Linked DNA regions of Homo sapiens. The protein of the gene in region 1 interacts with the protein of each later gene in a biochemical or structural test. Each region holds a gene or a part of one and is shown on either strand. Other genes may lie near its edges.

What was found.
Region 2: the proteins of CBFB (region 1) and COPRS form a complex in vitro, tested with the Homo sapiens proteins (one study listed by BioGRID).

What each region holds. Positions count from the first base shown.
Region 1 is NC_000016.10:67,031,974-67,039,265, forward strand, and holds part of CBFB (core-binding factor subunit beta), read left to right. Parts: intron 1-4,665; coding exon 4,666-4,782; intron 4,783-7,292. UniProt on the Homo sapiens protein: Forms the heterodimeric complex core-binding factor (CBF) with RUNX family proteins (RUNX1, RUNX2, and RUNX3).
Region 2 is NC_000017.11:31,851,371-31,856,536, reverse strand, and holds the end of COPRS (coordinator of PRMT5 and differentiation stimulator), read left to right. Parts: intron 1-3,506; coding exon 3,507-3,725; intron 3,726-4,228; coding exon 4,229-4,398; 3' UTR 4,399-4,666; downstream 4,667-5,166. UniProt on the Homo sapiens protein: Histone-binding protein required for histone H4 methyltransferase activity of PRMT5.

The DNA.
Region 1 (7,292 bases):
GCGTCACCATACGCAGCCCCATGTGTTGTATTATCATCACTATCTTTGAAAGCTGAATTTTTTTGGAAATTTGGTGAATCATAGCTAGTAGGGTGTTTTCTGTCATCTCAGACTTTGCTGAATGGAATTATGAATTCAACCCATAGGATATCTGAAATGCTGTAATATTATAGTAGTAGTACAGGTGGTTAGTGTTTGTCATGAATTTATTTCCAGGATGAATTAGACATTCTAGACCTTCCCCGCTTCCAAATAATCTGATCCTCACCTGAGCCCGGGAGGTCGAGGCTGCAGTTAGCCATGATCGTACCACTGCACTCCAGCCTGGGTGACAGAGTGAGACCCGGTCTCCAAAAATAAAACAAGTATCTGATTCGACACATTTTACAAGTTTTAAATTTCTGAGAAGTATTAAAGGTTAAAGAAGGTAGATTGAATGCTGTGTGAGGTTTGCACTTAAGACGGCTCATGTCTTATTTTGTTAAATAATGTAACTATTGGTATTTGGAGAGGAATTTCACGTTTCCTAGTTTTCTCTCTTTCTAGTTTCCCTCCTTTAATTCAGTGTTAACCCACATTTAATTACAGGATCCTTAGCTCCTAGAGGGTAGAGACCTCATTAATTTTGTATAAACCCCTCTGGATACAGCTATTTTTCACAATACCTTTTATATCAGAGGTACTTGATTATTTGAATTTAGAGGCTGCTTAATTTAATGCCTGAAATTTATCTCATGACTTATGAACAGGCTGGGTTTCTTCCTATTTGGCTGTGGAAAAAGGCATTATTTTGCCTGTTTTGACAGCAGCCATAAATGGCAAGGATATCCATAGTTCTCAAAACTATTCCCAACCTTTCTCCTGCCCCAGTTGTCCTCTTCTTATTTGGAACATCTTCTTGATGTATCAGTGAGGTTAATGAAGAATTCATTTTGCTGTTGCCCAGGCTGGAGTGCAGTGGCATGATCTTGGCTCAGTGCAACCTCCGTCCCCCATGTTCAAGTGATTGTCTTGACCCAGCCTCCTGAGTAGCTGGAATTACAGGCGTATACCACCATGCCCAGCTAATTTTTGTATTTTTAGTAGAGACGGAGTTTCACCATGTTTGCCAGGCTGGTCTCAAACTCCTGACCTCAGGTGATCCACCGACCTCGGCCTCCCAAAGTGCTGGGATTACAGGCGTGAGCCACCACTCCCAGCCTCATTTTGCATTTAGATGTGAAATAATTTAAGGGCTGTGTTGATCATCTCTCTTTAACTATAAAACTCAATCAGCCTCCTTATTTTATGCCAATTGAGTTTTTAACTGTAAAACCCAATCAGCATTAAATAAAAGTGAACACAGGTCGAAGAATCTGTAGTAGAATCTGATTTATTCTTTTTTGAGACTGGATCTTACTCTGTCACTCTGGCTGGAGTGCAGTGGTGCCATCTCCGTTCACTGCAACCTCCACCTCCTGCTTCAGCCTCCTGACTTGCTGGGATTACAGGCGCCTGCCACCACGCCTGGCTGGTTTTTGTATTTTTAGTAGAGATGGGTTTCACCATGTTGGCCAGGCTGGTCTCCAACTGCTGGCCTCAAGTGATGTGCCTGCCTCAGTGAGCCACTGCACCCAGCCTTGATTTATTCTTATCAATTCTTTTTTTTTTTTTTTTGAGACGGAGTCTTGCTCTGTCGCCCAGGCTGGAGTGCAGTGGCACGATCTCGGCTCACTGCAAGCTCCGCCTCCTGGGTTCACGCCATTCTCCCGCTTCAGCCTCCCGAGTAACTGGGACTACAGTCGCCTGCCACCACACCCGGCTAATTTGTTTTTGTATTTTTAGTAGAGACAGAGTTTCACCGTTGTTTTTTTTTTTTTTTTTTTTGAGACGGCGTCTTGCACTGTCGGCTAGGCTGGAGTGCAATGGCACGATCTTGGCTCTCGGCTCACTGCAACCTCTGCCTCCTGGGTTCACACGATTCTCCTGCCTCAGCCTCCCGAGTAGCTAGGATTACAGGCGCACACCACCACACCCGGCTAATTTTTTGTATTTTTAGTAGAGGTGGGGTTTCACTATATTGGCCAGACTGGTGTTAAACTTCTGACTTCGTGATCTGCCTGTGTTGGCCTCCCAAAGTGCTGGGATTACAGGCTTGAGCCACTGCACCCGGCCTATTCTTACCAATTCTTATGTAGTTAAGAATGTTGGAGACGTCTTCAACACTAATAATCAAATAAAGAAAAAATATTTATAAGAAGTATGGTTACTCTGTGGTGAGAAGAGTAAAAACTAATACATATTTCTAATTCTAAAGATTGAATGGTAAAAAGTATGTTGGATTGGCACAAGGTGTGCTATTTTATAATTTGTGAAACCTACAAAGCATAAGACAACCTGGAAATCTTAAATATAGGCGTCATACTAGTGTAGCATTTTAATGTTTTCATTTTGTTTATTTTCGTCTTTATTTTCCTATGACGATGTTGACACCATATTAATATTTTGGAACAGACTTTTTCCAACTCTTACCTATATGTAGGTATTTCATTAAAAGAATTCCATGGTCACATAAGTTTGGAAAATGTTATTCTAGAATGATCTGTGTTTACCACTTCTGTCTCAGAGAGGGATCTTTATGAGATAATGGACATATAGTGATGAAGCAGGAAATCTCTTCTGAGGTTGGCATCAAGACAGGAGATGAGGTAATACGATCTGCAGAGTGTCTTAGCACAGAACTGATTTGGGGTACACTGGAGGTGGAAGGATTTGCTACTACGTGAATACTGAAGAAACAAGCCACAGGGATTTTGACACGGGGCAGTCGTTCATGGGCTGTGTCTTTTCTGCCACCACTCTGCTCTGAGAATTTCATTATCTGAAGCTGAAAAAGTTGGCTTTCTTGTTGAGCTTAAAGTTATTTATCATATTATTCAGCAGACACTTTCATAGCATTTACTTGGTACTGTTTTAAGCACTTTACAAATAATTGATTTGTGAGAAAACTGAATTATGCTTCAGGTCGTACAGCCTGGGCAGTTTCCCTCCCAGAAACTTTTTTTTTTTTTAACTAGTGTTGGGGGGTTTTTTGTTAAGATTTATGCTCGTAGTACATGGGAAGTTTTTTTTGTTTTTTGTTTTTGTGATGGAGTCTCGCCTTGTTGTCCAGGCTGGAGCACAGTGGTGCAATCTCGGCTGACTGCATGCAACCTCTGCCTCCCAGGTTCAAGTGATTCTCCTGCCTCATCCTCCCAAGTAGCTGGGATTACAGGCGTCTGCCACCATGCCCAGCTAATTTTTTGTATTTTTAGTAGAGACAGGGTTTCACCATGTTGGCCAGGCTGGTCTTGTACTCCTGACCTCAGATGGTCTACCTGCCTTGCCTCCCAAAGGGCTGGGATTACGAGTGTGAACCACTGCTCCTGGCCTGAAAGATTTTTTAAAATGATGTTGTAATATTGATGTTAGTTCAGTTTCTATGGATATAAAACATTTACCACATGAAAATGGTACCCCAGTTGATTAGGGAAATGCCATCAGAGAGGTTTAGAGATTTAGCATTTAGGTTGACAAGTGTACCGACAGTGCCAGTAATAGAAATAGGAAGTATAATTTTTACCTCTAAAGAATCTAAGCTGTTAACCATCAGGGGAACTATTGGATAGCTAACTTGGTTGATGGCTTTAAACAAATTGCCCCAAATGTGAACCTCTTGATTTGAGATGAAGACTCTATGCATGGAAACCAATTATGCTTCAGAACTTAATTAGTAGAATAAACCAAACAAAAAACTTTTTCTGGTTTCAGCAAAGAAGAGTTTACATTTAGATGATGAAAAATGTATTTTTTCAAAAATGCTTTTACTTCTTTTTTTCTTAATTTCCTTTGGGAAAGGGGTAATGTCTTTGTTTTTTGCCTGAGGGAAATATAGAGGTAACTTGCTCAAGGCCTACATAAAATGACACTTTATTGAAGTGGTTTTAGATTGTTGCATCTGTTGAGCTCTAACATCCAAATCTTTTATATTTATAAATCTAATCTATAAATATTTATTAGATGAATACTTTTCTCTTTGTTGTAGTCAGACCAAGTTCTCCTAAAGTCAAATGTGAGAAAAGACATATTTTTAAAAATCATCTAGGGTTTTAGAGAGTACTGTCACATCCCATGCCAATGTATGGTTTATCAGAGGAGAGACAATTCCAAGTGCATTTTTTATGTACTGCCTGCTATGCAGTGTTTCAGCAAGGGAAATCAAGGAAAATTAAAGTGTCTCATTTATACAATTTTAAATTGTGGTATTCTTTAAAATTCAAAATCTTTAGATTTTGAGTGATTTTTACATTTAAAAATAGAAGTTTTTAAATGCAGAGATGGATAGTGGCTTCTGGTTAGACATTAGCAGTGTGAGATCCTAACGTCAGCAAAAAATGACCTGAAAGAAAGTATTGATTCCATGTCTGATTTTATACTTAAGCAGCCAATGGCAAATGTCCTCAAAATGGAATCAGATGTTTGTAACTTAATACTTAAGAAAAATGATGAGTGCATGTTTTTTTTTACTTTTAAGTATTCTCTGTGCTGCCTGGCTTAAGACATAAACTGATGTAAAAATAAATGACTGCTTGCATAATTTATGTAATGTCCTGCTCCTGATCCTGTTTGTATTGATTTTTCTAAAAGGCTTTTGTGGCCACAGGAACCAATCTGTCTCTCCAGTTTTTTCCGGCCAGCTGGCAGGGAGAACAGCGACAAACACCTAGCCGAGAGTATGTCGACTTAGAAAGAGAAGCAGGCAAGGTAGGAAACATTTCTTTGCAATTTAAAATACTGTGGGTTGTTTTGTTAGAGATTATCTGGTAATTTACATTTTAATAAAGATCACAGATCTGATTATACCAGCATATGCTCAGATTTGTTTTCATTCCATGTTATAAGGATGTAATATAATTTTTTTTTTTTAATGGCGTTTCGCTCTTGTTGCCCAGGCTGGAGTGCAGTGGCGTGATGTTGGTTCACTGCAATCTCCGCCTTCCAGTTTCAAGCGATTCTCCTGCCTCAGCCTCCTGAGTAGCTGGGATTACAGGTACCCGCCACCACATCTGACTAATTTTTGTATTTTTAGTGGAGATGGGGTTTCACCATGTTGGCCAGGCTGGTCTCGAACTCCTGACCTTGTGATCCGCCCACCTCTGCCTCCCAAAGTGTTGGGATTACAGGCGTGAGCCACTGTGCCCGGCCAATATAATTTTTTAAAACCACTGTTAAACTTTTGTATCACTCCATTCCTAATTTCATGTACATAATATTTGTCATAGAACATTCTAACCCTTAAGGAAAGTAACATAACAATTTCTTTAAAAGTTTGAGGAGATATATTTTGTTTACAAAAATATATGTAAGTATAGTGCTATAAAAATAAAACAAGAGGAAAACGGAAAAAAGCTCTCTAGGTTTAAAAATTAATAGTATTTAGAAATAGCTCATAGGTAACTTTCTAATTCCATTAACAGCAAATTTACATTTGAGAAAAACAATGTGAAAACTTTAACTTGGAAATACTTTTTTTTTGTTTTGAGAAAAAGTTTCTGGGAACATGTCTTACAGTTTCGATGTTAGAAGTTTAGGTTAAAGATACAAAAATATAGGTAAAATGTTTAAGCTGAGAGCCTTATTTCAGGTCTACGTTAAATGTATTATGATTTTGGTAATTTTTTTTTTTTTTTTTTTGAGATGGAGTCTCCCTCTGTTGCCCAGGCTGGAGTGCAGTGGTGTGATCTTGGCTCACAGCAACCTCCACCTCCTGGGTTTTAAGCTATTCTCCTGCCTCAGCCTCCTGAGTAGCTGGGATTACAGGTGTGCGCCACCACGCCTGGCTAATTTTTTTGTATTTTTAGTAGAGACAGGGTTTCCCCATATTGGTCAGGCTGGTCTTGAACTCCTGACCATGTGATCCACCTGCCTCTGCCTCCCAAAGTGGTGGGATTATAGGAGTGAGCTACTGCACCTGGCCTGGTAAATTTTAATGAATAGCATCTTGGATTGGTTGATTCTTGATTGAGAAGTCAAGGAGTTGACTTCTAGAATAAAATTTTTAAAGAAGAAACCCTCTTTTAAATATAGTTTTATACTCAAAACACCCTTTTGGATCCAGTTTCATACTTTTTTTGTGTGTGTTTGTTTTGCAGTGTGTTTTTGTACCCGTTTCTATCAACTTACTAAATTAATTTTCTAAGTGTCATCATGAATAGCATAACCTGCCACATTTATGTAAAATGTGAGAAATGTCTAAATATTCCTTTGAGAAATATTTAATTTAATCTTGTGTGTATATATATATATACACGTATATATGTGTATATATACGTATATGTGTGTGTATATATGTATATATGTGTGTGTATATACGTATATGTGTGTATGTATATACATATATATGTATATATAAAATGAATTTTTTGTTTTCTCCAATTCTGTAGAATTAGATTTGATCTTTTGTGCGTGACAAAACAATCTTTGGATTAGAAAAGGGAAAACAGATTATAAGATTTAAAAAAATGAGTACTAAGCAAGCAGTTTGCTTTCCTGTGTATTAGCTTGTTTGCTTGGAAAATTAAAAGTGAATGTTCCAGATTTTACTATTTGGTAATTCTTACACAATATATAAGGAAGAATTTGAGAAGTCCTTGTACGATTATTGGTTTTTTTGTGCTTCTGGTGCGTGTATGTGTGACTAAATGAAGAAATTATTTTTTTTCTTGTTTGAATACTTCCTTAAAGTTTGTTTAACATGGTAGCTCAGATACTAAAGACGTAAACCAAAAAAAAAAAAAATTTGTTTTTTGTCAGCTTTAGCCCAAAACTATTTTAAGACTTCAAGGGCAACATCTCAGTGTTACTGAAGTCTTCCGGTATTTAATAACTAGTAAATGGGTTGTTAACTCTACCAGAAATTAAGTTTGCTTGAATTAATTTAATGATACTGCTTCACTAGTGTGAAGACCACATAATCCTTGGACTTAAACCATTGAGATGTTTTTAGTTATATGACCAAAAATAACAAAAATGTGAGATGGTTTATTCTAGTACAGTCATGTGTCACTTAATGGTAGGGATATGTTCTGGGAAATGTGTTGCTGGGTGATTTTTATCATTGTGTATATATAGAGTGTACTTACACAGATCTAGATGGTATAGCCTACTACACACTTAGGCTATCTGGTATAGTCTGTTGCTCCTAGGCTACAAACCTGTACTGTACAGCATGTTACCGTACTGAATACTGTAGTCAACTGTAACACAATTTGGTA
Region 2 (5,166 bases), on another chromosome or scaffold:
TTCCTAGGGGATACATTCTAAGACCCCCCCGCCCCAATGGATGCCTGAAACTGCTTTTTTTTCCTCCTATATATACTATTTCTGATATGGTTTAACTTATAAATTATGCATATGTGATTAATAACAATAGTAATATAGAACAATTATGCCAGTATACTGAAAGTTACGTGAATGTGTTCTCTCTCAAAATATCTTTTTTTTTTGAAACGGAGTCTCGCTGTGTCACCAGGCTGGAGTACAGTGGCACGATGTCAGCTCACCGCAACCTCCGCTTCCCAGGTTAAAGCAATTCTCCTGCCTCAGCCTCCCGAGTAGCTGGAACTACAGGCACGCGCCACCACACCCAGCTAACTTTTGTATTTTTAGTAGCTATGGGGTTTTACTATGTTGGCCAGGCTGGTCTCGAACTCCTGATCTCAAGTGATCTGCCCACCTAGGCCTCCCAAAGTGCTGGGATTACTGTGAGCCCACGCTCCCAAAGTGCTGGGATTACAAAGGCATGAGCCACTGTGCCCAGCCCCCTGCCGTTTTTTTTTTTTTTTGAGAGGGAGTTTTGCTCTTGTTGCCCAGGCTGGAGTGCAATGGCACAATCTTGGCTCACTGCAACCTCTGCCTCCTGGATTCAAGCATTCTCCTACCTCAGCCTCCCAAGTAGCTGGATTACAGGCATATGCCACCATGCCCAGCTAATTTTTGTATTTTTAGTAGAGATGGGGTTTCACCATGTTAGCCAGGCTGGTCTCGAACTCCTGACCTCACCTGATCCATCTGCCTCAGCCTCTCAGAGTGCTGGGATTACAGGTGTGAGCTACCACGCTTGGCCCCTTTTTTTCTTTTTCTTTTTTTTTTTTGAGATGGAGTCTCACTCTGTCACCCAGGCTGGAGTGCAGTGTCGCAATCTTGGCTCACTGCAACCTCTGTCTCCCGGGTTCAAGTGATTCTCGTGCCTCAGCCTCCTGAGTAGCTGGGATTACAGGCGTGCACCATATCGCCTGGCTAATTTTTGTATTTATTTATTTATTTATTTATTTATTTTTTGAGACGGAGTCTCGCTCTGTCTCCCAGGCAGTGGCACTATCTCGGCTCACTGCAAACTCTGCCCCCTGGGTTCACACCATTCTCCTGCCTCAGCCTCCCGAGTAGCTGGGACCACAGGCACCCGCCACCACGCCTGGCTAATTTTTTGTGTTTTTAGTAGAGATAGGATTTTACCTTGTTAGGATGGTCTCGATCTCCTGACCTCGTGATCTGCCCTCCTTGGCCACCCAAAGTGCTGGGATTACAGGCGTGAGCCACTGCTCCCGGCCTAATTTTTGTATTTTTAGTGGAGAGGGGCTTTCACCATGTTGGCCAGGCTGGTCTCAAACTCCTGACCTCAGGTGATCCGCCCACCTCGGCCTCCCAAAGTGCTGGGATTACAGGCATGAGCCACCGTGCCTGGCCTTTTTTTTTCTTTTAACTCTCACAACAACCCTATCTTCATTTTACAGATGTGGAAGTTGAGGCACAGAACAGTTAAATAAAAACAATTTAAAAATTGTGGTAAAAGATGCATAACCTAAATTTACCATGTAACCATTTTAACGCATATAATTCAGTAGCCTTTTAGCACAATGGCAGTGTTGTGCAACCATCACCACTACCTAGTTCCAGAATCTTTTCATCACCCTAAAAGGAAACCCTGTGCTCACCAAGTAGTCATTCTCCATTCCTTCCTTCTCTGAGCTCTTGGCAACCACTAATTTGCTTTCTGTCTCTGTGGGTTTATCTGTTCTGGATAGGCAAATGTGAGTTGCCTGTAAAGGGAATCATAACAATATGTGGCCTTTTGTGTCTGGCTTCTTCCACTTAGCGTATTTTCAAGGTGCATCCATGCCGTAGCATGTATCAGCACTGCATTCCTTTTTATGGCTGAATAATTCCATCATATGCATATACCACATTTTGTTTTTCCATTCATCCATTGATGGACATTTGATGTTGTGTCTACCTTTTGGTGATTGTAAATAGTGCTGCTGTGAGTATCCTTGTTTTATTTGAACAGCTGTTTTCAGTTCTTTTGGGTATATGTTTAGGACTGGGATTGCTGGGTCATATGGTAATTCTATATTTATGTTATGGAACTAGTTAAGTAAATTTCAGCTCAATCACACTTTTTTTTTTTTTTTTTTTTTTTTTTTTGGAGACAGGGTCTCACTCTGTGCAATGGCACGATCTTGGCTCACTGCAGCCTCCACCTCCCAGGTTCAAGCGATCCTCCCACCTCAGCCTCTTGAGTAGCTGGGATTACAGGTGCATGCCACTGCACCCAGCTAAATTTTTTGAATTTTTTGTAGAGACAGGGTTTGCGACATTGTTCAGGCTGGCCTTGAACTCCTGAGCTCAAGCAGTCCACCCACCTTGGCCTCCCAAAGTGCTAGGTTTACAAGGGTGAGCTACCGTGCCCGGCCCAGTCCGATGTTTGGTAATTGACAAAACACGGATTTGAAATCAGACAGTCTGGCTTTAGACCCCTTGCTCTGAACTATCACTTTATTGCTTATCACTGTTACTGTTGTTCCAGTATTAAGAGCATGGCTGTTTTAGGCTGATTGCCTTCTCTCCTGGGACCTGGCATCACCAAAGCACTATGTGCTCGGAAATCCATTATCTTTCCCCAGTCTTTCCTCCGTTATTGTGAGGCCTTTTGAAAATGTACCTTCCGGCCTCCCTGATGTCAGAGGGAGGCACTAGGTGCTGCCCATTGTGATTAGATGGGTTCTGGTCTTCTGCCTGCAGTGCCCCTGCTCCCCTTTGTCCCTGTGCTCACCTCTAACATGCTCTTTGAGGCTGAAGGGAGGAATAAAAGAGCAAAAACAACCGGGCACAGTGGCTTACGCCTGTAATCCCAGCACTTTGGGAGGCCGAGGCGGGTGGATCACAAGGTCAGGGGTTCAAGACCAGCCTGGCCAAGATGGTGAAACCCCGTCTCTACTAAAAATACAAAAAAATTAGCTGGGCGTGGTGGCGGGCGCTTGTAATCCCAGCTGCTCAGGAGGCTGAGGCAGAGAATTGCTTGAACCTGGGAGGTAGAGGTTGCAGTGAGCCGAGATGGTGCCATTGCATTCCAGCCTGGGCGACAGAGCGAGACTCTGTCTCAAAAAAAAAAAAAAAAGAGCAAAAACTTAATTCAGGCTTGTATTGTGAAAGTGTATTATTTATCAGAGGCCCTTTGCCTCAGTGACATACAAACCACCTGAAAATGTTAACTGTCCCTAGCCCTCTTTGTAAATTAAAGGACCTGACAATTAATGCCTTGTATAAGACAAAACGTCTTATTGAAAATAAATTATCAGCTCTTTTAAAAACATACAAAGAAGTGCATTTTTAAAAAAGTGCTCGGTGGCTAAAGAAGACTCTGTGCACTTGTTTTACTACCTTCGTAGTAAGTCTGCCCAAAATTTACTGAGCACAGAGCAGGTCCTCTTTGGTTTGTCACTAAGGCCATCTTCTCTTTGTCAATTTAGCCCGTGGAACACAGAGCATTCCTAATGACAGTCCTGCCCGGGGTGAGGGCACCCATTCTGAAGAGGAAGGCTTTGCCATGGATGAGGAGGACTCTGATGGAGAACTGAATACCTGGGAGCTGTCAGAAGGGACAAACTGTCCACCCAAGGAACAGCCTGGCGATCTTTTTAATGAGGACTGGGACTCGGAGTTGAAAGCAGATCAAGGGAATCCATATGGTAGGTGTGGAGTCTCTGGGGGTCCTGAACTAGGCCTTCTCAGACACACCTGTCAGACCAGCCCTGAAGGCAGTTTGGAACAGGGGTCCACATCTATGAGCTTAGGCTGGTATCTGTTACAGGTCTCCAATTTCTGTGACACCTTCTCTTTTATATTGAAAAAATCCAAATTTTGCATTTGACTCCATAATGTATCACTGTTTTAAAGTCAAAACTGTTACTCTCTCCAAAAATCTCTGCTATGAATTGAGCAGCTGCAGATAGAAGTGCTGTGTTATCCAGTTTGCTTCTTCACTGCTAAGAACCCTTGTCTGAGAAGCATAGCTTCTCAGCTGTTCCGAATGAACGCATTTACAATTCTTCAGGAAAGGAGAACTGTGTGTGTTTTTAAACAAAATAAGTGCAAGGATCTGTCCCCTAGACATACCTTTTTGGCTGTCCGTTTTTACCTTCCTTCCTTCCCTCCTTCCTTCCCTTAATCTGTCTTTTAAAACTGCCTGCAGATGCTGACGACATCCAGGAGAGCATTTCTCAAGAGCTTAAACCTTGGGTGTGCTGTGCCCCACAAGGAGACATGATCTATGACCCCAGCTGGCACCATCCGCCTCCACTGATACCCTATTATTCCAAGATGGTCTTTGAAACAGGACAGTTTGACGATGCTGAAGATTGAGTGTGGAGCTTTCTGCCTTGTAGGTGGGCGGGCCTCCACGTCAAGATCTCTTTTCCTGTCTTGGAGGTGAAAAGTCATATCTGAGAAAATGTTTGCAGTGACCCCTAGTCTGGGGTACACAGACCAGTGTTCCTTATTGACAGTGTTCAATAAGGCCCCGTCATTCTCGCCAGTCTGTTGTTGTTCTTAATGGGCTCCTCCTTGAAATGTGTGTGTGTTTGTGTCAAGAGGAGTTGTGTTCTTTGTAAATAAAGGTTAAAAAGAGAAACCAGTATGCTTCGTCTGCTTTTTTCCCATTTATTTATTTATGGAGACAGTCTCACTGTGTCACGCAGGCTGGAGTGCAGCAGCGCGAACTTGGCTCGTTGGAACCTCCACCTCCTGGGTTTAAGCGATTTTTGTGCCTCAGCCTCCTGAGTAGCTGGGACTATAGGTGCTCGCCACCACACCCGGCTAATTTTTTGTATTTTTAGTAGAGATGGGGTTTCACCACGTTGGCCAGGCTGTTCTCAAATTCCTGGCCTCAAGTAATCCACCCGCCTTGGCCTCCCAAAGTGCTGGGATTACAGGTGTGAGCCACCGTGCCCAGCCTTCACTACTTCATTTAAAGTCCCTGAATGACATTTTAAAGATTCAAACGCTTGGAGGCTTAAAACTACTCTGTGAAAGAAAAAAAATTTTAGTTTTGCTTCTGTAGATCTAGCACTGTTGACCAAGGATTGGAATCCAGGAGACACTGGTGATTTTGTAGCTGATTGTTTTCCTGTT